Regions from separate parts of the Homo sapiens genome. Here regions 1, 2 and 3 are each linked to region 4. Evidence: fine-mapped expression QTL. A gene starts in region 4. Each other region holds a variant in brackets. All regions are shown on one strand. Distances are between the middles of the regions.

Region 1 (8,274 bases), 35 kb after region 4:
GGAAATCATGTGGAAAGCTAATACTCATTTTTCTTTATGTAATTAAGCTTTGAAAAGGTAAGGGAGAGGCAAAGAAAGAATTCCTCGACGTCTTTGAGAGAATCTTCAATGCGCACACCTTGTTAACATATCTGGGTATCTGTGTGGGTTGGTTTGTAGGTCAAAAAATGAACAGCAATGAAAAAACGTACACAAAAAGGAGCCCTTTTTTTCCCTTTAATAACCAGCTGTGACTTTGGCCAGAAACTCGTCCTCTAAAATAGTTATATTGGCTGAAATTTGTCCTCTACATTTTTGTAGAGATTTGCCCATATGTTAAAATAAGACATAGCTTATGCTGGTGGTCTCACAGTCAAATCATAGTTTCACAGGAAAGAATTTTGCCTCCGAAACTCTAGTTTAGTGCTTTCCTTCTTGTGACATTGTTAGAATGCAAAGAAAATCATAAATTTACAGACTTTTTGAAGAAAACAAAAATCATTGAGAAAATAAGTAAACTCTCTCAATTTCAGTGCTATCTCATAATAATCTTTTTTCCTTAGTCTTTGAGTAGGAAACCATCCTCCTTCTTGTCAAGGCTGATTCCTCCCCATGTGTCCTTGAGCCCATGTCTTCTTCCTCTGGTGCCTTTTTTCCCATGTTTCATACCATTTTTCACTGTATCATCAATATCTCCTTCCTTGCTACTTCCTTCTTTTCAAACTGAAAACATACTTCTGTTTTCCATGTCTCAAAAAAAACAAAAACAGGCCAGGCGCAGTGGCTTACGCCTGTAATCCCAGCAATTTGGGAGGCTGAGGTGGGAGGATCACCTGAGGTCAGGAGTTCGAGACCAGCCTGGACAACATGAGGAAACCCCATCTCTACCAAAAATACAAAAATTTGTTGAGCATGATGGCGGCTGCCTGTAATCCCAGCTACTTGGGAGGCTGAGGCAGGAGAATCACTTGAACCCAGGAGGTGGAGGTTGCAGTGAGCCAAGATCTCACCACTGTACTCCAGCCTCGGCAACAAGAGTGAAACTCCGTCTCAAAAACAAAACAAAACAAAACAAAACAAAACAAAACAAAACAGCCAGGCATGGTAGCTCACGCCTGTAATCCCAGCACTTTGGGAGGCCGAGATGAGCAGATCACCTGAGGTCAGGAGTTCAAGACTAGCCTGACCAACATGGAGAAACCCCCTCTCTACTAAAAATACAAAATTAGCCGGGCATGGTGGTGCGTGCCTGTAATCCCAGCTACTCGGGAGGCTGAGGCAGGAGAATCGCTTGAATCCAGAAGGCAGAGGTTGCGGTGAGCCGAGATTGTGCCATTGCGCTCCAGCCTGGGCAACGAGAGCGAAACTCAGTCTCAAAAAAAAAAAAAGAAAAGACAAGACAAGAAACCAAAATAGCAAATACCGGTACAGGTTATTACTCATATTTTTCTTGTCTTAACCACTAGCATTCTCACTTACTCTTTGTAATATAATTAGTTTGGTGTTCTCTCACTCTACTAAAGTTGCTACCTAAAACTGTCTGTAACATATCTTTTTTTTGAAGCAGTGTCTCACTCTGTCACCCAGGCTGGAGTGGAGTACAGTGGCGTGATCTCGGCTCACTGCAACCTCCACCTCCCGGGTTCAAGCGATTCTCCCACCTTAGTTTCCTAGGTAGCTGGTACTACAGGTGCCAGCTAATTAGCCACACCAAGCTAGTTTTTGTATTTTTAGTAGGGATGGGGTTTCACTATGTTGACCAGGCTGGTCTCAATCTCCTGACCTCAGGTGATCTGCCTGCCTTGGCCTCCCAAAGTGCTGGGATTACAGGCGTGAGCCACCACGCCCGGCCTGTAACACTTTAATTTGTTTCTTTCTTGACCTCTTTGCAGAATTTGATGTTGTCCCCAGCTCCTCATTCTTGACTCCCTGTCTGTTCTCTTTCTACTCCAATCTGTTCTGACATTACTTTTGACTTAATCTTTAAGAGTAGTGCTGAACATACTGCTTCCCTGGTCAAAAATCATCCATGGCTTCATGAGTCATTTGTCTATGAAGATAGCGTTAATATCCTACCAACCTGATTAAAATCCTTGTTTTCTCAGTCCTGTATTACGTTTCTTCCTCTTGGAAGTTCATTTTCTTAATCTCTACCTGTCCAAGGCCCATATTTTAATGAGGGGCTATTTTAAAATGCTTTCTTCTGCCTGAAGTGTTATTCTGATTCTACAAACATGATGTTGACTCTCCTTTTTTTTTTTAACTCCTCTGATTTGTTCTTTGATACCTTATAGGTCTCTTTCTGCTGTGTATTGTAGTAATTTTGTTATTATTCCTACGTTCTTACTCCTACAGTGTGGAGGTTGTTTAAAGAAAAACCCCTCAGTGGCTCACCCCTGTAATCCCAGCACTTTGGGAGGCTAAGGTGGGCAGATCACTTGAGCTCGGGAGTTTGAGACCAGGCTGCACAACATGGCAAAACCCTGTCTCTACAAAATATACAAAAATTATCTGGGCATGATGGCATGTACCTGTTTTCCCAGCTACTTGGAGGAGCTGAGGTAGGAGAATTGCCTGGGCCCAGAAGCTGGAGGTTGCAGTGAGCTGAGATCACGCCACTGCACTGCAGCGTGGGTGACAGAGCGAGACCCTATCTCAGAAAGAAGAAAAACAAAAAGGAAAGCAAAGAGAAGAAAAACTCCATGGAAAGAAGAAGAGCCATTAACCTATTGCAGAACTTCCTTTTTTTTTTTTTCTTTTTTGTTTTTTGAGACGGAGTCTTGCTCTGTCACCCAGGCTGGAGTGCAGTGGCACGATCTCGTCTCATTGCAAGCTCCACCTCCCGGGTTCACGCCATTCTCCTGCCTCAGCCTCCTGAGTAGCTGGGACTACAGGTGCTCGCCACCACACCTGGCTAATATTTTGTATTTTTAGTGGAGACGGGGTTTCACCGTGTTGGCCAGGGTGGTCTCGATCTCCTGACCTTGTGATCCGCCCGCCTCAGCCTCCCAAAGTGCTGGGATTACAGGCGTGAGCCACTGCGCCCAGCCTTCCTTTGTTTTTTTAATCTACTCTTTGAAAAAGCTGCACTCCATCCCAGGGTGGATGGAAAGGAGAAAGGCAGGCAATAACTTGTCCAAAATCACACAGGAGAGGCAGAATTCAAAGCCATCTAGGACTAAATGAGCAAGGGGAGGGGGCAGTAATGGTACTCAGAGAAAGCAGCTGCAGCTGGAGGAGAACTACCCCAGAGGAGCGTGGTCTTCATTAGAGGGCACGCCTACTACCAAACTATAGCCCAGGAGATAGGGAGTCAGGGGATAAAGGTCCCGAGCCCTCTTCCATCTGCCCTCCAATCTGTTACTGTTTCCCAATGGCTAAATCTAGTAGAAGCCACAGGGCAAGGAAACTTGTTGATTGAGTTCATAAAAGTCAGTCTCTTGGTCTTAGGAGGGTGTGAAAGGTAGAGTGTGAATTTGACTGAACTAATAAAAATTTTCCAGTTTAGAAATGGAATACAGGTAATCTGTCTTAGCCGTGTTGGGCTCAGATGGAGTCACAGGGAAAGACTGTGCCAATGACTAGGCAAAGAAAGCTTTGCATTGGCCTTTTAAGGCCAAAATCAATTAGGATGTCTGCCGTCAGCAGACAGAATGACGACAACTAATTCTTGAATCTTATTTTTAGCATTGGTGAAATATGCTATGAACAATAGATAGCATCTACTAAAAGGCAATCATTTCTCATTAGGATGAGGCAGAACAGATATTTCCATTTGGGGTAGAGTGAGGTAATCTACTTGTTTATTGGAAAAAGAATCAAGGGAGAAATCACTGCTGCAATG[T/C]TGTCATAGACAGAATGCCAGCCTGGAGCCTGTCAGAGGAAATAGAAGACACGAAGACTCCCTGGGAAGCAAAGTGCTTTTACCTTGAACATAACCAGAGCAGGTCACTTCACAGGCCAAATTAAGATGTATAATTTAGTGTGTGCCTCTGCAGAGCCGCTGCATTTGAGTCCAAGTAGAATGAGGCAATGCTGTTTGAAATAGTCCTGTGAACTCAGCATGGAATTGCAATGCCAGTGTATTTAACCCCAATGCACAGTGATTTCCTGTCCTTTTGCTTTTTTTCTCTTAGGACTTACTGCTCTTTTTCCTCTGGTTTCTTGGATGAAAAATATGTGTGATGATTCCATACTGCATTCTGACTTTCTAATGGGTTGTCACAGAGAAGAGTTTGCCCTGGTCTAAAGCCTTCTTCTGACATGGAACACTCTAGAGGGTTGAGGTTGAAGTTCATTTGCTCAGGGAAGATCCTTTTTTGTTGAAACAACCAGCTAGTCAACCTGGTTTGGCTCAGTCCTCCAGTTCCAATGAGCCTCCTGTGGGTTGTGGTTTTCATGTCAGTTCCATTTTCAAAGCTTTTGCAGTGTTCCATCCCATGTATGTGCCACCCAGTGGCCAGCCTAGGCCCTGGGAAGTTGTCTTATCTCTTCATTTTTTTTCAAAGCCCTTCGTATGGTGTTTAAGTTCAGATCCACAATCCACAGGCTGGGGTTAATTCAGGTATCCATGAACAACTTTATGGGTCACTTTCTAAGATCCTTCTCCATAATCTTTCCCATACTTCTGGGCTCTCTGAGGCTCTGATTTCAGTCCTCTAACTAGAAATCTAGGACTACTAACCCTCCAACTCTTTGGCTGCAAACTTCCTGCAACTCTGCCCACACCCGAAATCAACGAGAGGCAGAACAGAGTGAGAGAAAAAGAAATAGGGTTTTCCCCCATACATCTTGGGACTACAGTTCCTCTAATCATAGAGAAATGTTCTCCTCCCTCAGAGTTTTAGGTGCCAACAAGAAAACTTCTTTCTATTCTTGATTCTGAATTACAGGACTCCTCCTATATCTTCCTCTGTTTGTGCTGATATTCACTGCCATGTTTCAGGCACATTTGAGTCCAGGCTTAGGGGCTACTGAAGGACAAAGTTGAGAAAGTTAGCTGCTTTACAGTTGGTTGATACTTCAAAGCCTGGTCTTCCTCATCAACCTGCTTGTTACCATTTACTTTTAGAGTGTTCAAATAGCTGCTCCATGCATTTTATATTGGTGTTTTTTTTCTGTTACATTCAGTGGGAGAGCTAGGATAGAGTGCACTTACTTTATCTTACATGGAATTGAAACACCTTATATACTGTATGATTCCTTCTAAATGTGTTAACTTTAGCCTAAATCTCATTCTCTATCCCTTTGCATCTAGCAGTGTTGTGGACATATTTGTTTGATTATTCCCCGATACATCAAATTCAATATTTCCACAACTGAATTCATCTTCTTCCCCTGAAGCCTATTCCTCTTCGTGCATTTATCTTTGTGAATGGCACCACAATCTACCCAGTCACCTACATCTGAAATCATGAAACCAAATTCTTTCCTGTCACGCATATCCAATTAACCACCAGACCCTTTCAATTCTATCTTTTTATTTAATTTTTACTTATTTATTTAGAGACAGAGTCTCACTCTTTCACCCACGCTGGAGTGCAGTGGCACAATCTCGGCTCACTGCAGCCTAGATCTCCTGGGTTGAAGCAATTCTTATGCCTTAGCCACCCAAATAACTGGGATTACGGGCATGTGCCACCATGCCTGTCTAATTTTTTCTGTATTTTTAGTAGAGATGGGGTTTTACCATGTTGGTCAGGCTGGTCTTGAACTCAAGTGATCCACCCACCTCAGGCTCCCAAAGTGCTGGGATTATAGTCATGAGGCACCATGCCTGGCCTGAAATCTATCTTTTAAAATTGACCATCTCTTCTCCATCACATTGCTACTGCTTTGGTTTTGGCTATCGCTTCTTTCTGGAATACTGAAAGACCTTTCTAAGTGATTTATACCACTAGTCTTACCCCCTACTTGTCTACTCTCTACTTTACTTCTGAAGTAATCTTTTTATAACAAGTATAAGTAAGTAGCTTAGGATTCTTCATTGGCTCCTATGGATCCTGGGATAGTGAAACTCCTTAGTCTAGTTCAGTACAAAGTTTCTTACAACATACTGCTTCCCAGGGCCCAGAACAAAGGAACTGTAGTCCCAAGATCATGAGACAAACTCCCATTTCTTTTTTCTTCCTCTGTTCTGCTCCTCTTTGGTTCCGGACATGTGCACCACAAGTGTGGTAAGAGCATTCTGTATGGAAGTTTCTGGGTGGATGAGGCAATAGTGTAAAGTTCTTTTTTTTTTTCTTTTTTTTTATAATAGTAGCTTTATGCCTTGCATTGTGGCTTTATTGCTATAAAATCCAATGTTATAATTTTCTAAACCTTGACTTGAGTTTCCCAACTGTGACTAACATATAGAGTTCTAACCATGACATTTTCTCCATTTACATAACCAAGACTTATAAAGACCAGGGGAAAAAAGTACTTAATCCTGTAAACAGGCACTACATGTCTGTAATTCTCATAAAGGATATAGCCTTTATGTCAGTCCTTCTCTTCTTTTATTTCTAAATTAGAATCTTCATTGAGTTTTTACTGCCTATACCAGCTGTAGTGAACTCCTGGTGCCCTTTTTCTAGATTTTATTGTTTAAGGGATGACCTTAGGGAGCAGCACTTTACCTGATCAGACATGTTGAAGCTCTCCAATGAGTGTGGTTTTTGTTTCTTTCTTTTTCTTTTTTTTTTTTTTTTTGAAAGACAGGGTCTTGCTCTGTCACTTAGGCTGGAGTACAGTGGTGCAGTGGCGCAATCTCAGTCCACTGCAGCTTCAACCTCCCAGGCAATCCCCTTGCCTCAGCCTCACTAGCAGCTGGGAGTACAGGCTTGCACCACATTCCCAGCTAATTTTCTCTTTTTTTGTGGAAACAAGCTTTCACTATGTTCCCCAGACTGGTCTCAAATTCCTGAGCTCAAGCAACCTCCCGCCTTGGCCTCCCAACGTGCTGGGATTACAGGGGTGAGCTGCTGCGCCTGGCCTCCGTGAGCGTTAAAATAGCAAGATGTGAGACATTGTTAAGAAATTATGTAACACCAAGTTAACAAAAAAACAAAAAACAGAAAACAACAAAAAAAACTCCTCTATTCAAATTAGATGGAAAACCAGTTTGTTAGTAGAAGGCAGTAGGTGAAGAGCAACATGACCTATGAAGCAATGTAGTGAGAGAGATCTGGGTTTGAAACTTGCATATTCTGAGCCATATTCCCTTAGACAAATTCCTTTATCTCTGAATTTCAGTTTCCTCATCTGTAAAATGGAGATGTACTGATTCCATGAGATAACAAAATGAAAATATAAGTGTATATGTGCTCAGTATATACAAATTCCCTCTCTTAGGGAATAGAATACGCAGTCATATTCCTATTTGAAATTACAGCATAAACTGTGACTTTGAACAGATTCTGAATTTTTTTTTTTTTTTTTTGAGATGGAGTCTCACTCTGTCACCAGGCTGGAGTGCAGTGGCGCGATGTCAGCTCACTGCAACCTTGGCCTCCTGGGTTCAAGGGATTCTCGTGCCTCGGCCTCCTGAGTAGCTAGGATTATAGGCATGCACCACCACACACAGCTAATTTTTGTATTTTTAGTAGAGACGGGGTTTACCATGTTGGCCAGGCTGGTGTCGATCTCCTGACCTGGTGATCTGCCCACCTCGGCCTCCCAAAGTGCTGGGATTACAGGCGTGAGCCACCATACCCAGCCAATTCTGAAAATTTTTAACACTCCTCCCCCAACATCACACACTACTCCTAATCCATGGGAATTGAGGAGATGAGAACAGCTAGAGGAAAATGATGCTTGAAGAGAGAGGAGAGCATTCTATTTTTCCAAAACTCAGCATAGCTCATCTGCTGCTTCCCTTCAGTTTGTCTGAGAATTCATTAATTGAACTCCTAATGCTTAGTGCTCAGCGGATATTGACAGCTTTGCAATTGCTTTTATTACTGATTATTATAAATTACACAATAAGAGACTACCTCCTAAGTGAGTTCTTGGACACATGCAGCGAGTTTTTACCAATAATTATTAAGTATCCCTACACATGTGCATCTTTAGAAAATGCTAGCAATAAGCATTTTAGAAAAGTTTTAAAAATACGGCCGGGAGCAGTGGCTCACACCTATAATCCCAGCACTCTGAGAAGCTGAAGTGGGAGGATCGCTTGAGTCCAAGATTTCCAGACCACCCTGGGAAACATGGCAAAAGGCTGTTTCTACAAAAAAAAAAAATACAAAAAAACTAGCTGGGTGGTGGTGGCACGTGCCTGTAGTCCCACCTATTCGGGAGGCTGAGGCA
Region 2 (8,274 bases), 46 kb after region 4:
ATTCCTAGGCCTATTACTTCACTTTGTAGCAAGAAAACGGGGAGTGGAACAGCGGGGTGTGGAGATGATTAGGATGGTTTTGACCTAGTGGTTCAGAGGTATAGTTGCTTCCAGGACTTTGTGAATGTCTTTTATTTCTTTCTTTTTTTTTTTTTTTGGCATCCTCTAAAGTTACTTCTGTGGTTGCGTAACAGTGACTCTCAAAGGAAAACAGGAACAGGCAGAGAGAAGTGGTAACTTGTCCCTGCCTTTGATGGTAACACTGGGTAATTGGCCTCTTGACCTAAATTCTGCCATTCATGCTGCTGGAGTCATTCTAGGGATTCTCTAAGCAGAAGTGCAAAAGTACGCTGTGTCTTCACTTATGTCTGTAGTTAGAGGTTTTTGTTTGTTTGTTTTTAGTAATCATCTCGATAAGTGCTATTATTTTATGACAAAAACTTTTGTGTTTTAACAGAACAGGAAGGAATTCAGTCTAATTTGAAGAAACTTGGTTCAAAGTTTTCTTTTTTTACAGTTTTTAAATTTCCCAAATAAGCACAAATTGACTTTATTCCGTAGGTATCTTTTACTTATGGGTTGTTACTGTTACTGGTATAGCATCATTTCTTATGTAAAAGGTGCTAAAGAGCTCATTTGACTTACATACTTAATGTGATTTAAAATGTTACATGAAAATAATTTTGTGGATTCAATAGGACCAAAAAAGACTGTGTAAAAGAAGCACTGCTCTGGTATTCATTACATTTTCTAGGCTGTTGTGGCCAGAATCTCAGGGTTTTATATGCCATTGTGCAGGTTATGTGTTCTTTTTCAGAGCTCCTCTAACAGCATGTGGGCAATGCTTTTTCTAGGGAATAGCTCCTAATATGATAGACAGTCTCTTACAGGTTAGAGCAAACATCAAGTGCAATTTTTGAGATAAAAAATATCTATCTAGGGAAGAGGAGCTTCAAAGCTTTTTGGTCATTTTGAACTTGTGAAATTTTATAAATCTCTCTAGATCATTGATCCAGGGGGTAGAGCTTTAAAAATGTGGTAAATGCTTTTCATCTTGTTTTTTGCAATAAATCTTGTTTTGATAAGATTTTCTACTTTCATAACCAATATGCTTCACCAGGAAAGTCACAGAATCGTAGATTTTATATCATGTATTGCAGAACCCTAGTGATGAAAATTCTTTCTCCTGTCGGATGCTGAGGACTTAGAAACACTTGACAAGGAAACTCTCTGAGATTATTAAGAGAGAGATTTCTGGAGGCAAGAGTGTAGAATATCTTAGCTGCCTTAACTCCAAAAACTGCAGAAACTGTGCATTAAATACATTGCTCTTTAGTAAATCCTCTTTTTCCTCAATGTAGGATTATCTTATTATTTTGCCCTTTTTCTATTTGAAAAATATCATAAAAGCTCCAGTGTATCTGGATCAAGGCAGGCACACAGAGCACATTCAGTTTCTGTTGGAGACTGACCGTGAGCCCACTGAGTGACAAGGTGAATGGATGATCACATGTTCCTTTGGCCTCTCCGTGCAATCACTCAACATTCCCTTTACTTTGGCCTCAGCCTTCCATTGGGATCTTCAGCAGCACTTTCAGGAACCAGTCATAAGAACTGTAAGCATCTCCTGTGCTTCTAACCTTATAAAAGAAGAAGCTGGAAAAGGGAAGGAGAGTAGAAGTGGGTAAGAGCTTTTTTTGATATGGGTAACTTCTCTACTGTGGAGACTTCCTATAGGGCCTCCAGCCATTACCTCCTATTGGCCCTACTTTGAAAGGCATGAGGGAGGGAGTTCCCCAGATAGTACCTTTGATTTGTATCCTCTGTCTAGTTCCCTTTTCTCTCTTGATTTTCCCTTTCCTGTCGCTGTGAGTCCTCTTTATATTCTGAACCCTTCAGTGACTCCCTGCAGCTGGGAAGCCCATACAGGGAGAAGTTTCCTGCTTCCAGCTACCTTTGTCTTTCACTTCATTTCTCTTCCCACCTAAACCCAGAAGAGGGCTCAGAGAGTTGCCAGCAGTCCAGAAAGAGGGGTGAATAATTCATTTACCATCACACTACAGTGTCCCTTTATCTGAACCCAACTCCCACCTTTCTCCCAGGTTAGCTATTAACCAGATTAAGTTTATGGTCTGTGGACATTTATTTCCTGTGGAAATAACATCTAGGTATTTTTATTGAAGTGATGTCATTAAGATTATTGAAAGCTCTCATTAACTGCTTAAGAAAGAGATTAAGTCTGGCAAAAGTAATCAGATCTGTTTCCAGTTGGAAGACTCTTCAATGTTAGAGGCAAGTAGTAATTCCCAGGAACCAGTGAAACCCGCTTATCCTTGTTACAAGACTAAGCAGTTAAAGCTGACATTACCATTCATGCAGGATGTAGCATAAGGATGTCACAGAGGCCAGCGATGCACCTTCTGTTGGGTTTGTAATTTCTTAACTTCTCATTTCAAGGATGATGCATGGGAATCTCCATTATCACCACATAGTGGTGATAAAATAGAGAATATACTAACAAGAACTGGTAGTCAGGTTTTTCTTCTCCTGCCTCCTCCCACCACCAACCTGGAGATTGGTTTTATAGTATTTTATTTGGCGGGTGGAGACTGATGTGGAATGTTCCCAAGCCTTTGTGGAGTATGGTCTTCCCCCAAACCTTGAGGAACTCTAGTTGTGCTAGCCTGCAAAGCAGTGTCCTTGGAGCTTGGTGCTAGGATTCCTTTCTGTTTTGCTTGCTTTCATTTACCTTTGATTCAAAGTAAACCCTTTTAGTGCCAGAAGAATCACAGGGAGCTTGGCTCACCATACTTGGGAAATGCCCAATCTTTAGTATGCTCTTGAGTAATCCTGTGGTTGTTTTCCTTTGACTGAAGTCACTGATGTGGTGATGGAAGCATATGCTCCAGGCATAGTTCTTCCTGATATTGAGAACTGAGAATCTCTTGATCAATTCTTGTGCCCATGAAAATATGTAATTAATGTCAACTTATTAAGAGTTAAGAGGCATACATGAAATAAATTTTATTTACATGTGTAAACCCCTAATACTACTGTCAAAGCTTTGATTGTCTCTGTGGATATACATTATGGGAAGTAAATATAAACTCTTCCCATATTAATATTAAGGTTTGATGCAATTCCAATAAAATTGTAAAGAAGCGTCACGACATTAATAGACATATGCAGCCATTTAAGGTTACTACAGAAAGTATGTAGTACAAAGAAAATTATCTAAAATTAATGGAGGGAAAATAGGACTCAAAAATTGCATCAGCCATATTCTACCCATATAAAACAAATACAGGAATTAAGTTGACATAAAGTATGTTGCTATGCACTTTTGAGAAAGTAATAGGATCCCAATTAAAACTCTGTGTAACTATGACCTGGCAATCCCACTTTTAGGAATTTAGCTTACATAAATATATGTACCAATAAGAAATTAGGCATAAGGATGTTTATTGCAGCATTGTCTGTAGTGGCAAAAAATAGCTAGAAAAAATTTGAATGTTCATCATTAGAGAAATGGTTAAATAAATGATTGTGCATTTATGCTCTGTAATATTATGAGGCTGTTCAGAGTACTGATCTAGATTTGTATCTATTTGAGTTATAAAATAATACATAAAATGCTCTCAGGTTTTGTAAAACAACTATCACCCCTCCCAATATATAAATATATATGTTTGGTACAGGTTCGAATATCATGGAGATGAGTGTGGAAGAACACTGGCCAGGCTGTTAACATTCCTTATTGAGGGTCAAGGCAGTGGAGGTGGGGAATGAAGTGAAAGAGAAAGATGCGGAAAAATTGGAGAAAGGCATTAATTTTATTTCTCTTTACATATTTTTATATTGTTTCTCTGGTTGTAGTGAATATGTTACTTTTATGATTCTTCAAGAGTGATTTAACTACTTTTATTTTTTAAGAAAAAAACAAATTCACCACCTAGAGTGCTTGTGTGTGGGGTCGGGGGTGGGGAGTACAATTATAGCTAAAGTACACTTTTCTATGTTTTCCCCATGTCCTTTGAGGCAAGAATTTTAGCATTGAGAATATATCATTGTTACAAGGGGAAATGTAGGTTGTTAGAGACCTGTAAAAGCCATGCTCAAAAAGCACTAGTCCAGGAGGTAGGGATAGGATGAGGATAGAGCATAATCCAGAAACCAACGGAAGAAAGCAATTCAGAGAGGCCCCTGGATTACTCACAGTCCTGAGAGGAAACAGATACCTGCAAGGCTGAAGGCGCAAGGGAAGG[C/T]GTGCGTGGTCACTGGAGCCCAGACAGGGGAGATTAATGGAGGGGACCCTCTGTCAGGAACAGTGGTTTCTGGTAGAGACACCCAGCGGAGAGGAAGCTGTGGGGATAAATATCCTGGCCTCACCCTCCTCTGGACCACTTCCTGTAAACCTCCTCTAACTGAACCAACCAGAAAGCAGAGTGTAAAGGAGCCAAGCCAGGGGCTGTGGTCTACGGGGTCAGCCTTCCAGGGCCAAGAGCAGGTTGAGAAAAATGGGGAGTGGATCTGGAGGAGCCAATGGGAGTCTGGATGAGGGGGATGAATTATGCCATAAAGAACAGGAAAATACTGTTGCTTCTAACCCTCTTTGAGGGAGTTACTTCGGTAGAATGACGTCTATGAGTAGATTATAAGAGGCTGAAGGTAGGTGATAAGGAAGTGGAAGTAGTGGCTACAGTTTTTTCCCTCCGATTTATTAGTGAATGGATGTGAAAGATGGGATGGAATTTTAAATGAGCAACAGGGGAAAGAAGAATGTGTGTTTATGTGGTATATGGGTATATGTTTTGTTATAGAACAGTGGTAATCTTAATACTTAAATGATTATTACAGTGTTTTATTTCTTTCTCATGTGACCTTTCTCCTCTAAATTTGATTAGGTTGACCATCTTTTTATTGTTAAAAGTTCATACAAAGAGAAAGTGAATTAGAAGTCCTGGTAATATGATTTTTAGTCCATGGATTCAGAAACAATATTTTTTTTTTCAAAAAACAACACACAAAGCTCTTAAAATTTAACAGTGTTTGAGATCCCATTGTGCCTGCTTGCTTTTTGTGTAAAGCATAAAGAGAATTTTAAAGAGTGCCTTTTCCAATGATCTCAAATAAGAATAGCTCATTGGCATGTGAAATACGAAATAAATGTTCTACTAATGAACAATTTGTATTTTAAGGTCAGTTTCTGTATAAAATAAATGAGTATTTTTCTCATTTGTTTTGCTTTTTAAAGGGGAATGTGATTTAAAGGCCAGGACCATGGCCAGAATCTGATGTTTTAAAATCTCAAGCCAGCTCTATGCCTGTGCATTTTTCCCCAGATTAAGATTGAATTATGCTTTGAGGATAACACCTTCCACTGGATTGCTTTTCACTTGTCTCTATTTTTGGATTCAGAGTACAAGATATAAAGCAAGGGTGGCAGTCTGTGGCCTTTGGCTATATGCACAGCCTTCCGAAATAATTCCAAAGATGTGTAGAAATAGCAGAATAACACCATGATTAAAAGTAACAGCCACTGATAAATGTAAAAGAGAAAACTATTTTTAAAATAAATAGATATTAAATTTTAGAGAATAATTCATTGGATATATTTGTTAACTCAACACTCTGCCTCATGTCATTATTGGTTGGGACATGAGAAAAAGACAACCTTTTCGGGTTGTAATTGGATTACAAGTATTATATCAAACTGATAAAGCAGAGTACTGAATATTGAAAGCGTATGTTTTGTTTTATTTCTTTTTTTTTTTTTTTTTGAGACGGAGTCTCGCTCTTGTTTCCCAGGCTAGAGTACAGTGGCGTGATCTTGGCTCACTGCAACCTCCGCCTCCCAGGTTCAAGGAATTCTCCTTCCTCAGCCTCCCAGCTAGCTGGGATTACAGGTGTGCATCTGGCTAGTTTTTGTATTTTTAGTAGGGATGGGATTTCACCACGTTGGCCAGGCTCGTCTTGAACTCCTGACCTCGTGATCTGCCCGCCTCGACCTTCCAAAGTTCTGGGATTACAGGGGTGAGCCACGGCCTGTTTTGTTTTATTTCTTAGGGAATCCTGAGAAAGCACTTTTTGAAAACAGCAGATACCACTGCGGCCCCACCCCCTTCCTCTTGATAGCTGTGAGCAGATAAATGACTGTGGTGCCGATCTCACTGTATTTGCTTTCTGATCACTTACAGGGATAGTGACTTCTGTTAGATAATTTTGAAATTGGAATCAGACCATATCTAATGTATCTTTGTGGCCCCTGGGCTGTGATATTAGGTCATACCATCCCCTTGGAGTTCCTCTGTGTGCCCCGGCAGCTCAGCCTCCTATCATGGCATGTTCTGGAGTTTCTTCCCTCTCATAGAAGGTTCTAGGAATTTTTTTTTCACAGTCATGGATTGTTCCAGTACATTGAAACAAGGCTCAGAGCCTTATAGGAAAGAACTTGAAATCAGGTCAGAATTGGAATTCAGAGATGTATGGGATACAGACGGATTTGAGGGGTCCTGGAACGATGTTGGATAATAGGGAGGAACAACAAACTACTGAAGGAAAAGTACCAAGAGAGAACACTTCTGGGCCAGAATGTCTTGGACAAACATTTCCTCATCCTCCTGGGAGGGCCCCTACACTTGAGGAAGAAGGAGCTTTGGCAAAAAGAAATGAAAGAACTTTATCATCAGAAGCCCAACAGTTTTGCAGTATTGAAGAGCTGTTCAAGAGAGGTAGGGACTTCCTCTCTTGAGGACTGGGTTTCACGCTAAGCAAGTGAGTGAGGACTTCAAACGCTGAGATTCAGATTTTTGTATTAGTAATTCATGGTATAGTCCCAGTTACTCGGGAGGCTGAAGCCCGAGAATCTCTTGATCCCGGGAGAAGTATGTTACAGTGAGCCGAGATTGCACCACTGAACTCCAGCCTGGGTGACAAAGAGAGACTCCATTTCAAAAAAAAAAAAAAAATTCATGGTAATACGGTTTTATTCACAATAAAGTCACAAATCAGTTCATTCAGATTTCACGTATTTTTTCTAAAACGTTCAAGTCTTTAGTTTCAGTTTTGTGTTTAGAGGGAGAACTCAGAAGTGCTCCTGTGACTGAGTAAAGCTGTTGGTTTCCAGGTGAGCCCAGAGGAATTGTGGAGAGTAAATAAGGTGTGCAGCTTGGGCCTCAGCTATGTTCTCCCTAGGATTCAGACTTGTCTGGGCATGTCTGGATAATTTGACAGTCATGCCCGTCCAGAGTCTTCTGCTTGAGGGCTGGGATGATCATCACAGGACAAAGCTCATCTTAAGGAAAGCAAGAATTTGAGCCACATCCGAGGGTAGCGGCTACCACGGGGAGGGACAACACTGAAAATAGCATGACGTATGTTCTCCAGATTTTCTGTTGCGCCAGCCCCATGGATTCATGCCTGGAGATAGGGAGAGAGGACTGCCATAAAAAAAGCAGTGTGAAAATTTAAAGAGTAATGTTACTAAAATTTCTTTAGGACATTGAAAGCAAATTCTGCATAACAGGATGTACAGACTTGGGGAAGCAGTGTCCCTATTGGAGGTGCTATGGAAGCACGGTGTGAAAGGGCATAATGAACTAGATTTTATCCAGTGTGGTTTTATTGATGGTAGAATGAATGAGATTTTGTCTTATCCCAAGGAGAAGCGGGAGAGGTAGGCAGTTGTGCCTTGGGCAACACATCTGGCACCTTTGACTACAGCAGCCCTGGTGCCCATTTTGGAAGCATCAAGAGGCACCTTGTGCAGCCGAAGCAAGAGATGAAAGCAGTGATGAGGAGGAAGGATTACATCCACGAGCACACATGATTTCTAGAATGATTCAGGGGAAATTGGTGTGGGGGAGAGGGAAGCACCAAAATCGGTAGAGTCAGTGAAATACCGATTTTTTAGCTTGTTATTACTCCCCTGATTGCAGTTGCTGGAAGGAATTATGTCAAATTTCATAGCGGTTTTTTGAGAATCAAATGAAATAATATCAATGAAAATAGTTCATAAAGCACTTTTTAAAATTAGCTTTATTATAATTACACATCATTGCTGGTTCATAGGGGCAGAAAGGATTTTAAAATCCCACTCCTTTTGGTATTTTCCAATGATGAAATGATGCTACAAAGAATAGCTCACAATGAGTTGTTTATTCGATGTGGATTTGCTGATTTGTTCTTGATTAAAGCTGCTACATTTGCTGCTTGTTTTTTAAGGCACTTACTTATATAGCATCTTTATCGATATTTTATTGTTTTGTGTAGGTT
Region 3 (8,274 bases), 71 kb after region 4:
CCATTTGTTGTAGAATAAAGAGAGGCATAAGATTCCTCGGAAACAGCACTGTCTCACTTCTCTCTTACCAACAGAATTTTTCAGGGAGACTGAGGAATGAGATCTTGGATGTGTGGCAAGATGTAGTTCTCTACAGACACTGCAAGTGGATGTGGCATTGGTTTCCCCTATCATTACAATATAACCTGCCTGAAACCACAGGTTCAGCATAGCTTACGTCCAAAGAGGGTTTCACAGCCCCAAGTGGAAGCTTCAGTTGGAATGGTGCTGAGTTTGATTGGAAAATACTTGTGTTTTAACTTCTGTCTTGGTTGACTAGCTTTAGGATGCTTACAGACTGGTTTCTGTTTTAAAAGGTTCACTGTTTAAAAACTTTATTCAGGTTGAGTTTAATGGAAAGTTACACTTGGGTTTCATTTAGTAAGTAATAGTTACCTATTTTTAGTGTTTTATTTACAGTTAGATGTAGGTTCACTCATTAACTCAAGGAAATAGTTGTTCTGGTCCATCCTTTGAGACTGGTAAAGTGGGTGGTCTGTGTATGAACAGAGTCAAGTTATTTAGAGGGATTTAGGGTCCAGGTTGAATGTGGAGGAGCATTAACCATGACGTTACTTATTTGACGGATTCTTGTTGTGAAGAATAAGGAGGGAGATCTGTGGTTAGGTAGTGATGATCCGACCAGTTGATTTTTCTTGAGATTATATTTTTGAGGAGAAACAGATCTGGCCTGACCTCCTCTCTGTTTGAGAGAATGTAACATGGGAAGTCTGCTACTGCTTGTTAACAGGATGCTATCTCGTTCATCACTCCCCCAACCAGCTCCTGATACAGTGCCTGGAAAACAGCAGAAAGCTTAATATGTCTTTTTGCAACATGCATCTTGCAGTTTTCTCAAACTCCCACATGTAGTCATGACAGCATCTTGCAAGCCTCTCCACAGAGTCAGCCAACCACAGTTCTTTGTCAGGAGTCACCTTACGTTTAATCAAGATGAAACGTTTATCCCACTTTGCAGTTATACAGCCACAGTTATTTATGGGTATCAGTTTTCCTTCCCAAAGTTTCAGAGCCAGAAGACTCGCCAGGAAGGCGGATCGAAAAGAGTTCGGGTTTCATGGCCCTGCAAACTGGCTGTTCCAGTAATCTGTCTTCCCTCCTTTCCCGAGTTTCTGCTCCAGCCTGCCTGTAGCGTAGATTGCTCTTTTATTGCCTTCGCTTCCTGTCTGCTGAGTTGGTCCCATTCTGGGCATGCTGCCAGGATTTGCAACTTAACACTTCCGCCCATTTCCTGCTGCTTCCTTTCTTCTTTCTGGTCTATTGAAGAATGGGCAGAAGTGCTAAGAACTTCAGCTAAATCTATGGAGTTTTTCAGTGAGTTTTGGAGGTACTCAGCGAATAAGAGGAGTAGATGTAGAGTTGGTCTGTCTTGAAAAAATTTTGGACGTTATGGGATCCACTCTGCCCTCTGCACCCACCTTCTCCTCTCACCCTCCAGAAGCTCTGGGCCTCCAGGCTCCTTTTGGTGCACACTGCGTGCTGCTCTGCTGGACTGCCTGCCCACAGTGACCTTCTGCCTCCTCTCTATTAGACTGTTGCCCATCCATGAGGGCCTGGTGCCGTACCTGCCTCACAGTGGTGTTTCCTTGATCTTTCCACCCATCTTCCTTCTCTGAAGTCTAGGAAAACTCTCTGTCTTTAGGTGGTGCTTAATAACACACCATGTCTCTAATGAGGATGTATGCTCCTCATGACCGGGGATAAACTCATTTAGTCAGCAGCTGTGGCAGCCACAGCTGCAAAAGCGTAACATTTACACAGTGCTTTATCACCTGCAAAGCCCTTTCATCCACCTTATCTGTTTTTCACAACTGCACTGTGAGTTTGGTATTACTGTTATCTCATGTGTAGATTTAGAAGCCACTTTCCTAACTTAGTGACTTACTGCACAAAAAAGCCTTCAACCGTGAATTGTTAGAGATGGTTTTTAGAAAGAAATTTGGCACTTTTCAATAGGCTATAGCCAATCAGTCATGCTTGAGAAGTTAAACATTTAGAGATTTAGTATTACTGATGAAGCACATTCTTGATGAACTACATGAAAATAGGAAGGGCTCAGTCACTAAAACAGTGGGAGTTTTTACCAAAATTTCACCATACAAAGTTGGCCATTTAACAGACTTCATTCTTAATTTTTTTTTTTTTTTGAGACACCTGACTAATTTTTGTATTTTAGTAGAGACGAGGTTTCACCATGTTGACCAGGCTAGTCTTGAATTCCTGACCTCAAGTGATCTGCCCGCCTTGGCCTTCCGAAGTGCTGGGATTACAGGTGTGAGACACCATGCCCCACCTATTCTGAATTTTTTTAAGCTGTAATTTAGATATCCAAATTTGAGAAGGGTTCATTTGAAGACCAGACATAACTAATTTGTATAACCCCATTAGATATTTCCTTTAAATAATCTTCTACACATATTGTCTTAGTGCACTGGTACATCTAGGAAGAGTCTACCTTTCTTCAACTAGAACTAACCTTCAAGACTGAATTTTAAAAGGAAACTATTTTCCTAAATGATGATTGCTAACATTTCTTGACGGCTTACTATGCATCAGAAGCTTTCTATGTATTATCTCTAAACTTTACAAGAGTCTTTGAGAGAGGTTATTTCCTCCATTTTATGGAAGACAAAAATTAGGTGACCTTCTTAAGCTGAGTAAGTGATTCACAGTAAGTGATGGATCAGGGATTCAAACTCTGCATTCTACCGCATCATTTGGCCTCCCTAGATGTAATGTTCTAAGGCATTATGTTATTTCACAGAGAGGGGCTGGTGGAAAAACTCAGTCGCTTTAAATTGTTTAAGCATTCCATGATAGAGTAGACATGGATGCGAGAAGGGATTTTATACATTCCAGGAATATAACTTCATTTGAATTGCCTCTGATTTCAAAGAAATCAAAACCTCAGTGGAGGGGAGTGGCACATAGTATCTTTAACATTTGCCCTTGTGCCAAACAAGGCTCTATGATTTGTTTCCCGTTCCAAATTAAAAAAAAAAATGCAGAAAAATGAAAAGCATTTTTTTCATCTAGTATTGAATTGATCCCATGCAAAAAAGAAAACAAAATCCAAAATTAAGGAGCACAAAGGAGTGCTATTTAGTGTCTGATTTGTGAGATTTCCTCCCTCTCCTTCCAGACTTTGTGGATCAGTTTCTGAAAATGAAAGGAATAATCTCAGATATTTTTATTGAAAAGAACACAGATTATTAGATACCAAATACATTCTAGAAGATTAATGCAATATTTGTATATGCTGATGGTGAAGACCAAGGGCTTTCCTACTCCGATGACTCAACCCTGGCTACACATTAGGATCACTTTGGGAGAGCTTTAAAGCAATCCCAATGCTCAGTCCCAAGCAGTAATTTAAGAAGGTCATGCAGCTGCCGCCTCTGCTGAATGGCAGGGCCATGGGAAGCTTTACTGATAAAGGCACAAAATGGCAAGGGGGGTGAAATGTACAGAGGGTCCTACTCATTGATCAGAAGTAGCCCGGAGAGGCTATAACAGCACAGCAAGACGCTGACCAGACCCCCTTCTCACTTTTATGTCTCAGAACTTTTCTACAGTGAATGTCAATGTGTTTTTTT[C/T]CTCCACATAACATCTGTTTCCTTTTTGTCTTTAACATCACCTCACTTTTCTTTTGAAAAGCCACGTCTCACCCTTTGCACTCTGCATGGTTAGGATGAAGCTGATCTATTGGATCTAGAGATGATCCTCAACCCAGGACTGAATGATAATTCACGTCACCTGGTCACTGTGATCTGTTTATGGACGGGCACATTTTCTAAGTTATACTCTAGAGAGTAGTTCCCCAGTCCTTTGCTGGAATAGTTGGGACACTGTCTTAGTAGCTATGGTTACTGAGCTGGAAGAATCTAATTGTGAAGTTGTAATGATTATCTTTGATACCATGAGGGGAGAACAGAATCGAGAGATGTAGAGAGATTCCTTATATCATTTGAGCTCCATGCCTGTAATCCTGGACTTTTTGGTTATATGAACAAATTCTATTCTGCCTAAGCCAGTTTAGTTGGATTTCTGCCACTTGTAATACAAGAAGTTCTAACTAAGAAACTTTACGTAGTGGAGCCAAAAGGCCAAATGGAGGAAGCAATGTGCTGATGTTGGAGTGAGGAATTCATGGAAGGGACGTTCATGTCTTGGAAAACTTAATCTGTGTTAAAACATGCATTCTATAAAATAGCTAGCTGTTTGATCAACAACCCTCACTATATAACCTGTACCCCCATACCATATGTTAGACTTAATTTTTCCTCAATATTCTTGGTTTTAGGGTGAAATAGATTCTAGGCCTTGTATTTATCTTTTGAGGACATATTTATTACTTAATATGCTATGATACTACTTTGGGGAACTATTGCCACAGATAGTGAGTCTTAGCTTAGTGCCATGTATTCATTCAACAAACATTGTTTGAACCAAGTCTGTATACTATATAGTGCAGTAGGCTTTGAATGCCAGATTCAGGAGTATTTACCTAATTCAGTAGATGGTGAAAAGCTATGGAAGGCCTTTGAGCAAAGGAGTGACATGACCCCAGTTTTGATTTGGAAAGATTAAGCAGCAGAGTGGACAGAAATAAGTTAGAAAAAGGAAGGCCAGTTGGTGATCCCCAGTTGATGGGGACTTGAATTGGGCCTGGAAATAAGTGGATGGATGTGAAAACATTGCGCAAATAGATCCACAAGGCTTGACGATATGACGTTGAAAGAAAGGCATTCTAGATGATTCTACAATTTGGGCTTTAGTTATAAGGATGTGGAGATGCTGTAAACCTATTTAGTTGTGTGAACATGGTCAGATTACTTAACCTCTCTCGGCCTGTCTTTTTATTTGTGACATTAATTACCTAGCAGGATATTGTTAGGCCATGTATATATAAAGCATTTAGCTCACTGCCTGGCACATAGTACATGCTGCATAGATGTTGGTTTGCTTTATCAAGATTGGATAGCCTATACTATGTCAATCTCTTTCTATTCCTATATATAAGAAATATTCCAGTTCCCTCTTCTTTCAGATTATGTAACAGAATAATGGCAGCAATCTGTTGCCGTGGTCAATCTTTGTTGACACACATCATTAGCTTTTTGAAGGAGCAAACCTGGAGTAGGATAGGCCAGCATGTGCCAATTTAGTGTTCCTAGATTTGACACAAACTCCAAGTTTTCTCTCTCACATTGTACCTGTCACTAGTGGCCATTAGATTTTATTACTGCTGCATTAGCTAGTGGTACTGTTTAGAAGGTGATGTCAGAATATTGGCCTGGTTGTTTATCCTGTTGCATTTTAAATACTTGGGACATCTAGAAGGTATACATGAAATGTACTGTGGGCTGAGCAGTAAAAGGATGAGCCAATGTGTACTGTCTAAAGCCAATACTAATTTTATAAAACCTACTCTGACCTACCTTACTTTCCCACCAGGCATGTACTTTTTGGGAGAAAATTGTTTAATACATGCCTGGGTTAAAAAATTTTCTTCTTTTAAAGCACAATTACATGGTTACTTGAATTTGCGGAACACAACAACGTTTTACGGAGTAGAAACACAAAATTGGAATATGACAAGAATAAATAAGACTTAGCTTATTCACTTTTTTTGGTGACTATAGGTCAGAGTTTTCAATCTTTTAGGTTTCACCTAAGAACATTGCACTTAATTCCGTGGACAAGGGATAATTTGTTTCACTGTGTAGTTAACTGTAAAAGTTCCCAGGCCCTTTCCTGCACTTCCAGAGTAGTATTCTTTATTTGTCTGTTCTTTGTCTATTGGCCTGACTGTATTGTGCTCCTTGAAAGTAGAGATCGTGTCCTCTTCATATTGTTTGCTTGCAGTACACTTTTGGTAAATGAATAAATGAATTAATTGGTAACACAATGAGAGAGACCTAATTAAGTTCTAGATTTTTCTTATTGTGGCTCTAAGTCTACTGCTTTCTTTTTGTTTTCAAATTCCTAAAATTCAAACAAACAGAAAAACAAAAATTTGGCCGGGTGTGGTGGCTCACGCCTATAATCCTAGCACTTTGGGAGGCTGAGGCAGGCGGATCACTTGAGGGGTCAGGAGATTGAGACCATCCTGGCCAACATGGTGAAATCTTGTCTCTACTAAACATACAAAAAGAAGCTGGGCATGGTGGCTGACACCTGTAATCCCAGCTACTCAGGAGGCTGAGGCACGAGAATCAGTTGAACCCGGGAGGTGGAGGTTGCAGTGAGCCAAGATTGCGCCACTGCACTCTACCCTGGCGACAGAGCAAGACTATCTAAAAAACAAAACAAACAAAACAAAACCAACTTGTCAACTATGTACTTTACTGGGAAATGGTGTAATAGACAAATGATTTCTACCTTTGTATCATATAGAACTACATGTAATACTGGAAATGAGGGAATGAGTTTCTCCCTTTGTGCTCTCAATTTATAGACAGTCCAGAACATTGTAAACAATATTGACACTGGCATTGAATGTGACCCTGAATCCGCCATGTGGTCTGAGGGAGCAGAGGTACAAAGTAATTGGTCATTGTGGTATTGAAACTCAGAATCAGGCATATGATGAAGTTTTATTTGCAGAATACTTTTTGTTTCAAGACACAGGACCCACTGCTCTATTGATAAAAGGCAAGAGTTTAATTTTTTGTTGTTGTTGATCTAAGTCCTTGGAGAAAGTAGACTGTAAATCATAGATGGGGTATTGTATACTCTTGTTACAACATCATCTAGCCAACCTTTCATCTGTCCCATGTGGAAGGTTCTCCAGTTTACATTTTTGGGTTATATGAATGAAGGCAGAGTACTATCCTATAATTAAGACTAAAACCTCTATCAAGAAGCAATGGGAGGAAAAGAGGTGAATTTACTTTGCATCCAAGATGATGGGCTTACTGTACTATAAGTAGTTCAGTGTATAGTGCAACAGGTATATTTTCAGAAGAAAGAGTCCTGGAGAGCTTGTAAAAAAATGGAAAGTAGATTCAAAAGAAATACTTTTAAAAATACATAAACATGCAAGAATGTTCATAGGATTAAAAAAACCAAATGTGCAGTAAAAGGGTAATAGGTAGAATAAATTTTTCCATATCTTATATATATGTCTGTAAAATGGGTATGTAGTCACTTAAAAGAATGATGTAGATATATATGAACTGACACACCAATGATCCAGGAATACCAGAACACGAAAAGACAACAAAAGCTGCCGAACAGTATCTTGGTATCACTACGTGTGTGTTCGTATATCCCCACATAAAAAAATAGTAATCTCTGGGGTTGGCGACATGAGGTTTTCTCATTTTTTGGATTATACAATTCCTTGTTGCTGGAATGTCCACCAATAAACATGCACTAGATGGCTAACTTTGAACATGTCTTCCCTGCCGGTGTGTAGGAAAAGTGCAGTAGCTAACCACTCTGTAAACACTATGGGCACAACTGGTAACCTAATCCATTGACCTGGAAGATGATGATGGCCCTTGGAAAGGGTCAGCAAGGAGAATAAAGTGACTGGAGTTAGCACATCTGCTATCTTTAGCAGGGTGTGCCAAGTTTTGTAAACAAATTATTTTGTAATTGCCTTATGTTTAATGTTCTTCAAAGCCGTAGAGCAAAAGAACAGATTATTTCTGAGAAGTGAAAAACAATTTTCATTTCACTATGCTGCTCTCCATTGGTCACTTGGGTATGTCCTTGGAAATAGATGTCAGAGTCCTGAATCAAACTGTGCCTTTAACTAACATTGTAACCTCAAATTGAGTCATTTAATTGCTAATCTCTTAGTTTCCCCACCTGTTAAAATTGATAATAATAATCCTTACCATCGCATTCCTGAATGAGGTGTTGTGACGCTTAATAAGATCATGTTTGCAAAACGCTTTGAGCTCTTTAGATAGAAGACACAATATAAACACAAAGTCTCATTAAGATAATTATACAGTGATTTTTCATAGTTTACATGCAAGGCTAAACCTAGTGATGGGGAGGTCATTTTATGAGAGCAAAGAAGAAGACTGGCTTTCAAAATCTGAAAATGAAATTCCTAACACATTTTAAAGACGAATATAGTACAAACAGTTTTTAGAATATGAGAGCTTAGTTTTGAGAGATGATTCAAAAAAATGAAAAAATTTTTGGAAGTTTTGTGTTTAACTGAAAACATCTTTTGTAAAACAGAGTGATCAC
Region 4 (8,274 bases):
CACCAGTTGTAAGTCGGGTTTCCTCCGGAACTTCTGACCAACCAGCTTCAAGCTGGGGTTCCCACGACTCCCTCTCTGGGTTTGATTAATTTGCTAGAGCAGCTCACAGAACTCAGAAACACACTTACCGGTTTATTAAGAAGGATATTTTAAAGAATACAAATAAACAGCCAGATGAAGAAATATATAGGGTGTGGGTCTGCAAGGGTCCCAAGCGTAGGAGCTTCTGTCCCCAGGAGTTGAGCGGTGCCATCCGCCCAGCACATGCGAGTTCTTCTTCACCTTCCTGTCAGCCTCCACAGGTTCAGCTCTCCAAAACCCATCCTCTTGGGTTTTTATGGAAGCTTCATGATGTCACCATTCCTTCCCCCAGTGTATAGGGTGGGATTCTCTGTGGGGAGGTTCTTAAGACCCACAATCAGAAAGGTGGAGAAGATTAGAGTCCTGCCTTGGGGCAGATAAGGAGAGGGCAGGAGAGAGATTCTGTTTCCTGAGGCCTGGCCCTGAGGCCTAACACACACAGCATTATAAAAAAACACCAACAATGGCTACGGGAGTTATGAGCCAGGAACACTGAATGAAAATTATATGTATTAATATACATTAAAATTAATTATATATGTATTATATATATTAAAATATATGTATATAATAACACAGGAATGAATGGGGAATCCCATGAAATCCTATTTACCCCTGGGGACTTCAAACGAGAATGTGTAAATAGTACCTTAAGCCCCAGGTAGGCAAGGACCATTATTTCCGTTTTCTTGGTTCCCTTTGATAAGCAAATTGACCAAATTTAGTAATTTCGAATTCATAGGCATTGTATCATCTACTTCACATGTTCCACAGAGGAATGCATTTCGGTAAGGATTATCAGAGACAGCTTTTTCTCTTAGGCAGGCAGTATGGTATATTGTGAAAATGTGGGCCTTGGCCGGGCTTGGTGGCTCATGCCTGTAATCCCAGCACTTTGGGAGGCTGAGGCGGGCAGATCACTGGGTCAGGAGTTTGAGACCAGCCTGGCCAACATGGTGAAATCCCATCTCTACTAAAAACACAAAAAATTAGCTGGGTAGGGCACCTGTAATCCCAGCTACTCAGGAGGCTGAGGCAGGAGAATCGCTTGAACCCAGGAGGCGGAGGTTGCAGTGAGCCGAGACTGCGCCACTGCACTCCAGCCTGGACAACAGAGACTCCGTCAAAAAAAAAAAAAAAAAAAAGGAAAGAAAGAAAATGTGGGCCTCCAGGTCAGAATGATTTGGGGTCAAGACTTTTTCTTAAACTTGCAACCTCAAGTGAGTCACTATCCTCTCTAGTCCGAGTTTCCTCAGCCTTGAGGTGGTGATAACACCTACCCTGCTGGGTGGTTGTGAAGATTAGTAATTTTGTTGATAAAGTGATCTCTTCAGGTATGGTCCAGATTGAGTGTTCTCAGCTAGGCTGTGCATTTCCATTAGGAAATGGGCTTTATTGAACTGGATATCCCTAGAGTCTAGTACAATAACATATATTAGGCACTTAGTAGCTGTTTATTTTTTCATTTTTTATTTTTTATTTTGAGACAGGATCTAGCTCTGTCACCCAGGCTGCAGTGCGAGGGCTTAAGTGATCCTCCTGCCTCGGCCTCTCGAGTACCTGGGACTACAGGCATGCACCACCACACCCAGCTAATTTTTTAACATTTATTTTTTGTAGAGATAGGGTCTCACTGTGTTGCCCAGTCTGGTCTCAAACTCCTGGGTCCATGCAATCCTCTCGGCCAGTAACTGTTTATTAAGCAAGGATCACATAAATACTCCACTAACAAGCTGGGCATGGTGGCTCACGCCTGTAATCCCAGCACTTTGGGAGGCCGAGGCGGGCAGATTGCTTGAGGTCAGGAGTTCGAGACCAGCCTGGACGACATGGTGAAACCCCATCTCTATTAAAAACACAAAAAATAGCCAGGCATGGTAGTGTATGCCTGTAGTCCCAGCTACTCAGGAGGCTGAGGCAGGAGAATCACTTGAACCTGAGAGACAGAGGTTGTAGTGAGCCGAGATTACACCAGTGTACTCCAGCCTGGGTGACAGAGTGAAATTGTCTCAAACAAAACAAAACAAAACAAAACAAAACAAAACAAAACAAAACTCCACTAACTTGTTAATTAGTGTATACCTTTGTATTGATCTATAACCTTTAACTTATTTATATTTTGTCTTTATTAATAGCCTCTTTGGGAAAATATTTTTCTTCTCCTTTCTCTTTAAAACACCTCCTACTCCCTCCCCCTACCAAGCTTAGAGCAAGTACATATTTCCAGGTTTGATTAAAGGCCAGAGTAGGATTTAGGAATTTCTTCAGAACACTGTTGAAACAATGCTGGAATATGACTTTGGATTAACATCCTTTTACCTTTCTAGGACTCAGCTCACACGACCATGATATTATTTTGTGGGTGGACTTTAAAAGATTTCTACATCAATTAAAACCTAGTTTGACTTAAGCCCTGCAAAATTTTACTTCCTTCCCAACAATAGGAAATCACAGCTCCCTTCTATGAGCAAAGTTGACTTGCAATTGCTCCTAACACATGTCAGAGGTGACACTTCACTCTTAAAGGTGCTTCTGAGGCTGCGGTTTCAAGAAGTCAGTAGTGTGAAAACTGGATCCCTATATGACAATTTTCAGGTAAAAAGAAAAAAGCATCAAGGAATTAAGAGTCGTACTGAGGGCTTCTTATTCTTCTAACTGATGATGATGATTTTTAGACAGGAGATATACGGACCTCGTATTGACTCTACTCCTAACTACGAACATGACCCAAGGACAATTACTTGAACTTTGGGAACCTCAGTTTTCTTATCTATAAGTGGAATTTACAAGGGGAAGATATGAGGATTGAAGGAGATAATGTATATGAAGTGCCTATGGAGCCGGGCACAGCACTTCACAACTGTAATCTCGGCATTTTGGGAGGCTGAGAAGGGAAGATCGCTTGAGCTTAGGAGTTTGAGACCAGCTTGGGCAATATGGTGAAACCCTGTCCCTACAAATAAAAAATTAAAAAATTAGCTGGACATGGTGGTGCCCGCCTGTAGTCCCAGGTACTTTGGAGGCTGAGTTGGGAGGATGGCTTTAGCCCACGGGGTTGAGGCTGCAGTGAGCCAAGATCGCACCACTGCACCCCAGCCTGGGTGACAGAGTGAGACCGTGTGTTAAAAAAACAAATAAATAAAGGGCCTATCAGTGTTTGGCTAATATTGTGATTAAGAATAAATCAGAGTTCCAATAAACTATTATTTCTAGAAAAAAAATAGTGAAAAAAATCACCTTAAAAATACCTTCCAAATTTTTTTCCCATTTACTTATTTGAAAACAGAATCTATTCAGGACAAAATTCTATCTTCAAGTACCAAATGGGTGATACAGTTCGCATTTATCCAAAAGCAGATTAAAGACAATGCCTTTTCTTGCCTACCTACTTGGAAAAGATCTCAGTGTCACTCAAATCACATTCCAAATCTCAACGACATTAAGGCCTCAAATCCTCTTAGGAAAGGTTTGAAGGTAGTTCATTTCAGTAATGATTAGACACTTGGGGACAAAACAGTACCTTGGCATCAAGGTCTGTACTGATTCACCAGCACAGAAATAGCAGTAACAAGATCTTCAACTCTGAGGTGTTCAAATAAGCAGACAAACTCCCTCGTGAGGCCCAGGCCTCTTGACATCCGGACTCAGTCTTTCTTTCTCAGATCGCCAAGGGTCTGGCCCATTTCTCAGCCTAAACCTATTTTGCGTTTAATTCAAACCAGTCAAAGTAACTTAACCGCCAGCAGTTAAAAAGCTACTAGGAGGAAGCGTAGGCAGGAGATGGGAGAGGAAAAGGCTCCTGTCAGGGTTTGGGCTTATGTGTGGATTCTTGAATTCTCCTTCTTTGTTCCTTTTAGCACTTACGATCAAGAACGGCTAGGCTGAGGGGGCAGGGGGGCCAGGCCACTGGAGCGAAACGGCCTCTCCGGATCTGGAGGCGTGGGAACCTCGGGAATAGTGGGGAGTTCCAGACCAGTTCCCTTCCCCCATCTGAACAAGTCCAGAGCGTGCGCCTTGAGAGGCGCTCGGAAACAGGGAAGCTGGGGACACGTAGCGAGAGACTGGTTGTCGCCCTGGCTGTCCGTCTTAGACCTAGCTTAGCGACCACCGCCTTCAATCCCTCAGCCCGGATCAGACGGTGCCAAAAGACAGCACTGCTTCCCAGCCTGGCCCAACGGCTCGGCTGCTGATTGGGCACCGCCGCCTCCCGCCCCGCCTCCCCTGCCACCTCGGGCGCCGCTGCACGTTTCCACTGGTCTTCAGCCCTGCCGATCAGTTTACTGCTCACCTCCCCCAAACAGCTCGTCAGGCCGGCGCGTGCTAGGAAGGCGGGGCCTGTGGCCTGTGGGGCGGAGCCTCGGTGGAGGTCGGCGCAGCTGCCCCTTTGGGCTTTGGCTCTGGACTGGAGCGCAGCATCCTTCGAGGCTGCAGCCGCCACGGCTGTTGCCGTAAGCAATCCTCCTGCCTCAGCCTCCCGAGTAGCTGGGACTCGGGACCAGCCTCCCGAGTATTGGTCAGGTAAAGAGAGTCTTGTCTGTTCTGCTGGCCATCTGCCCGTCTCTTCTTCCCGACCAAAGGCTGCCTGCTCCGCCTTCCCCCGTGGCTTTCAGGGTTCTTGGAATGAGGCATCAAGTCTATTTACCCCGCCAGCTTATCTTCCTCCCCTTCTGTGTCGGTTCCTCCAGCTCCCCCACCAAGCTGCTCCCAAGTACGTTGGTGGGCCCTCCGGGTCATCCCAACGCTCCTCACTACAGAACTCCTGTCGTTGACTCTCAGGTCCCAGCCCCCTTGACCCGCCAGTGCAGTCTCATTCCCAGCTTGGCACAGGAAAGGTGGAGGGCGGGAGGGCGGGAGGGCGGGGGACGGAGAGATGCAGAGCTTTTTTTTTTTTTTTTTTTTTTTTTTGAAGCTGGATGTGTTTAGCGCAGAGGGGGAGCACCACAATGGGATTGCATTGGGAACAGAAGCAGCTTCATGACTATGGTTGGCAATGACTAGAAAGGTATCTGTTGCTGCTTTTTGCTTGTGTTTATAGATGACATTTACCATCACCGTTTTCTTCTTCTTTCATCATCATCATCATCACCATTGCCACTACCACCACCTCCAAGGCCACTACCACCACAGCATCTCTGTTCCTCCATCAGAGCTCTTCAAGTTCTGTAAAGGCAGATTCTCTAAAGGCATGTAAGTGCTGACGGATCCCCCAACCCCCTCCCCCACCACCAAATAACGAACAGTGCTCTTGCCCCCTGAGGCCAGAGCCAAGCCCTCATTTAACTCAAGAACAAGTAGCTGGGAGCAGAGTGTGAGCTGGGAGGATTTTCCTTATCCTCATTTGCAATTGAGATTGCCAAAGAAAACCCTTTATTTTAATCATCCACATTTCTGCTTGCTGTCTCCTGGAGAGTTCCATGTTAGCACTCACACACTCCGAATGGGCTGAATGCAGAGCCTGAACCTGTGATATATATGGGGAGTGGCAGTCACTGAGAGGTGAATGTCCAGACCCAATCCTTTAAGAAGACCAGGTGGAGTAGCAGACAACCTGACTTTCTGCTACAGTAGCTCCAGCTGTACTAAAGCATGTTTACTATTCATGTTTGCATATGGGACATGTGCCATCATCTGCTATGCCCCCTTGCGTGTGTATTGGCAGGGGGGCGGAGGGGCGCATCTAAATTCCTAGGAGAGAGAATTATATTCTGTTCTCTACACCAGGTAGCATCTTATAGGCACACCAATGGGATTCAACAGCCGTTGCTTAGCTGTTTCTAGGGCTTACTGCAAATCTCTTGGATCACAGACTTATTAACCCTTTTTTGGGAGGGAAAACAGTATAGCTGAGAATTGCATACCAGATTAACTGTCGTTGTGGAAGATGTTGCTTCCACAATGAATCAATGAGGTCTCGGGTCTTCTTGATCAGATATCTAAACACTAGTCTCCTTTCTCTCAACTGTGTTACAGTCCAGGAGCAGGACCAATGAATAGTTAGACATATTGCAGGAACAAAGAAGCAATGGCCTCAATGGAGGGAAACAATGGAGAAGAGTAGTGAGACAGTATATTGTAATGGCTAAACTCATAAACCTGTCAGACATAGGTTCAAATCCTGGACCAGCCACTGACTAGCTCAGTGATTTTTGCAAGTTGCTTGCCTCTTTAATTTTAATTTCTCGTCTGTAAAATAGGGATAATACTACCTGTCTCTTAGGAGAAGGTGTGAGGATTAAACGAGATAATATAGGTAAAATACTCAGTAGTTTCTGGCACATAAGTGGGGAATTTATAGTAACTGCTATTAATAATACTAGTCAAGAAGGATAATAAAGGCCAGTCTCGTTCCTAAAAATTATGCATTTTTTTCCATTGTCTTTATCCTTTTTAGGTGTCAGAGCTGATGCAAATGGGGTATGGTAGTCTTCAGGTTCCTTATAGCACTACATCTTAGAGGGGTGCCACTATTGAAGCCACCTGTGTTTGGACAGGCATTTCTCTCACCAGCCTTCACAAGTACTTAGCCGATTCTTAGTTGAGATACGTTAAAGATGCAGCTTTAGAGAAGATTTCCAGGCCTCTGGCCCTATTCTAGACTGCTTCTTTCTCACTGAGTGTTCAATGCATTGACTGTGATTGATGAAGCCTTTGTCACAGGCTTAACCCTGCCTAGACCAAATGCTTTGGCCAAGGGAATGGGGTCCCATAGGACCTATGATTGTCTAAGGGTAGGTCTCATATCCTGGTCATCCTCCCTTTCCAGACATAAAATTGGTGGAGCTGTTCCCAGAGGAAGAGGAATGGGGACAGACTGGAACTTGATGTGATGATGGTAAATATCCTTGATAGAAAATTGAGAAATGCTTCTCTCCTATCTCATATACCATGCCTCAAAGTCTAGTTTTACGTTAAAGTTTTGGATTCATGCACACCATCCCAAGCTGTGGTGTGCTTTAGATGATCTTGCCTTTAATGGTTTTCTTATTAAAACTTTATTCGTATCAGTGTAAAAGTTCATAATGGATATTTCATATCTTGCAGTGATGCTACTGGTTGGTAGTATGACCACGTTTAGGGGCTATTCATAATCTCTTTTTGGGACCTGGTTTTAAGAGTAGCTATTATTTTTAGATGTACATAGTCTCTGTCTTAAATATCAGCTTAATTCTCAACAGGTCCCAGCCTGTGTTGACAGAATTACAGCTGTTAATCTGATTTGCCTGATCTTGCAGAGACGCTAAACCATGGGAATTGTATTCTCCTGCAGCAAATATAAGCTTGCACCAACAGGCTGGCACTGTGAAGGAACTGAAGCATCTCTGTATTTAGTGTCTGTGCTGAAGTGCTGACAAAGCATCAACCCCATGCTCTGCAAAATAGTAATTACTAAAGCGGGGAGATGTAAAGAAGGAAACAAACCTCTTTACCTTGTCAGCGCATAAAAGCAAGGGTCTGAGAAATGGAGCATTCCCTCTCACTTATGTTTCTCAAGTTCCCTGGCTAAAAGTAAACAATCTCCCAGAGTAACCTGGATTTCTGTGCTTATCTACGCTTTCAGCAAATACTGCCTTAGTGCATGTTTGAGGATGAGGGAGAGAGAAGAGAGTTGGTCCTCCTTGTGGACATCCTTACCTCCCCACTGGCCTGAAATGACCATGATCTCTGTAATGCATCTCTCTAGGAAGCAGACTACTAGTTAAGTTTTTTTTTCTTTAACCAACACACCTCCTATTTCCTTAACTTGATACTGACTTGTTTTATGTTCCATCTTATTCGAACTATGCCTATCTCTTCCTTCTAAAGTGTCATAGGTCACTGCTAATGATGAACACCTTTCAAATGAAACGCTTTTTTACTGTGGTCTTCCACGTGACAGGCTATTGGGCAAAATATTTTGGAGGTAGCCAGGACTTTTTTTTTTTTTTTGAGATGGAGTCTCGCTCTGTTGCCCAGGCTGGAGTGCAGTGGCACGGTCTCAACACACTGCAAGCTCCGCCTCCCGGGTTCACGCCATTCTCCTGCTTCAGCCTCCTGAATAGCTGGGTCTACAGGTGCCCACCACCACGCCTGGCTAATTTTTTGTATTTTTAGTAGAGATGGGGTTTCACCGTGTTAGCCAGGATGGTCTTGATCTCCTGACCTTGTGATCTGCCTGCCTCGGCCTTCCAAAGTGCTGGGATTACAGGCGTGAGT

Evidence for each region. PIP is the estimated chance that this variant, and not a neighbour inherited with it, causes the effect.
Region 1: its variant is the best candidate, but not a certain one, in a credible set for the expression of FMN1 in whole blood (INTERVAL, PIP 0.56).
Region 2: its variant is the best candidate, but not a certain one, in a credible set for the expression of FMN1 in whole blood (TOPMed, PIP 0.73).
Region 3: its variant is the best candidate, but not a certain one, in a credible set for the expression of FMN1 in whole blood (INTERVAL, PIP 0.52).

What each region holds. Positions count from the first base shown.
Region 1 is chr15:33,156,392-33,164,665 of GRCh38, reverse strand. All of the region lies in intron 3 of FMN1 (formin 1), which reads left to right. Among named protein-coding and RNA genes, the nearest start is that of FMN1, 34 kb to the left of the region's middle. RefSeq lists an enhancer at 1,440-1,489. The variant T/C (reference allele first, on the strand shown) is at 3,824.
Region 2 is chr15:33,144,672-33,152,945 of GRCh38, reverse strand. The region is part of intron 4 of FMN1 (formin 1); the gene reads left to right. Among named protein-coding and RNA genes, the nearest start is that of FMN1, 46 kb to the left of the region's middle. RefSeq lists an enhancer at 6,427-7,626. The variant C/T (reference allele first, on the strand shown) is at 4,266.
Region 3 is chr15:33,119,638-33,127,911 of GRCh38, reverse strand. All of the region lies in intron 4 of FMN1 (formin 1), which reads left to right. Among named protein-coding and RNA genes, the nearest start is that of FMN1, 71 kb to the left of the region's middle. The variant C/T (reference allele first, on the strand shown) is at 3,657.
Region 4 is chr15:33,190,903-33,199,176 of GRCh38, reverse strand. FMN1 (formin 1) reads left to right here and starts at 4,463. Exons shown (of 21, transcript NM_001277313.2): 1 at 4,463-4,599; 2 at 5,117-5,268. It overlaps LOC105370759 (a long non-coding RNA gene), which reads right to left and starts at 4,266. Exons shown (of 3, transcript XR_932090.3): 1 at 3,602-4,266. RefSeq lists silencers at 4,161-4,370, 4,145-4,484.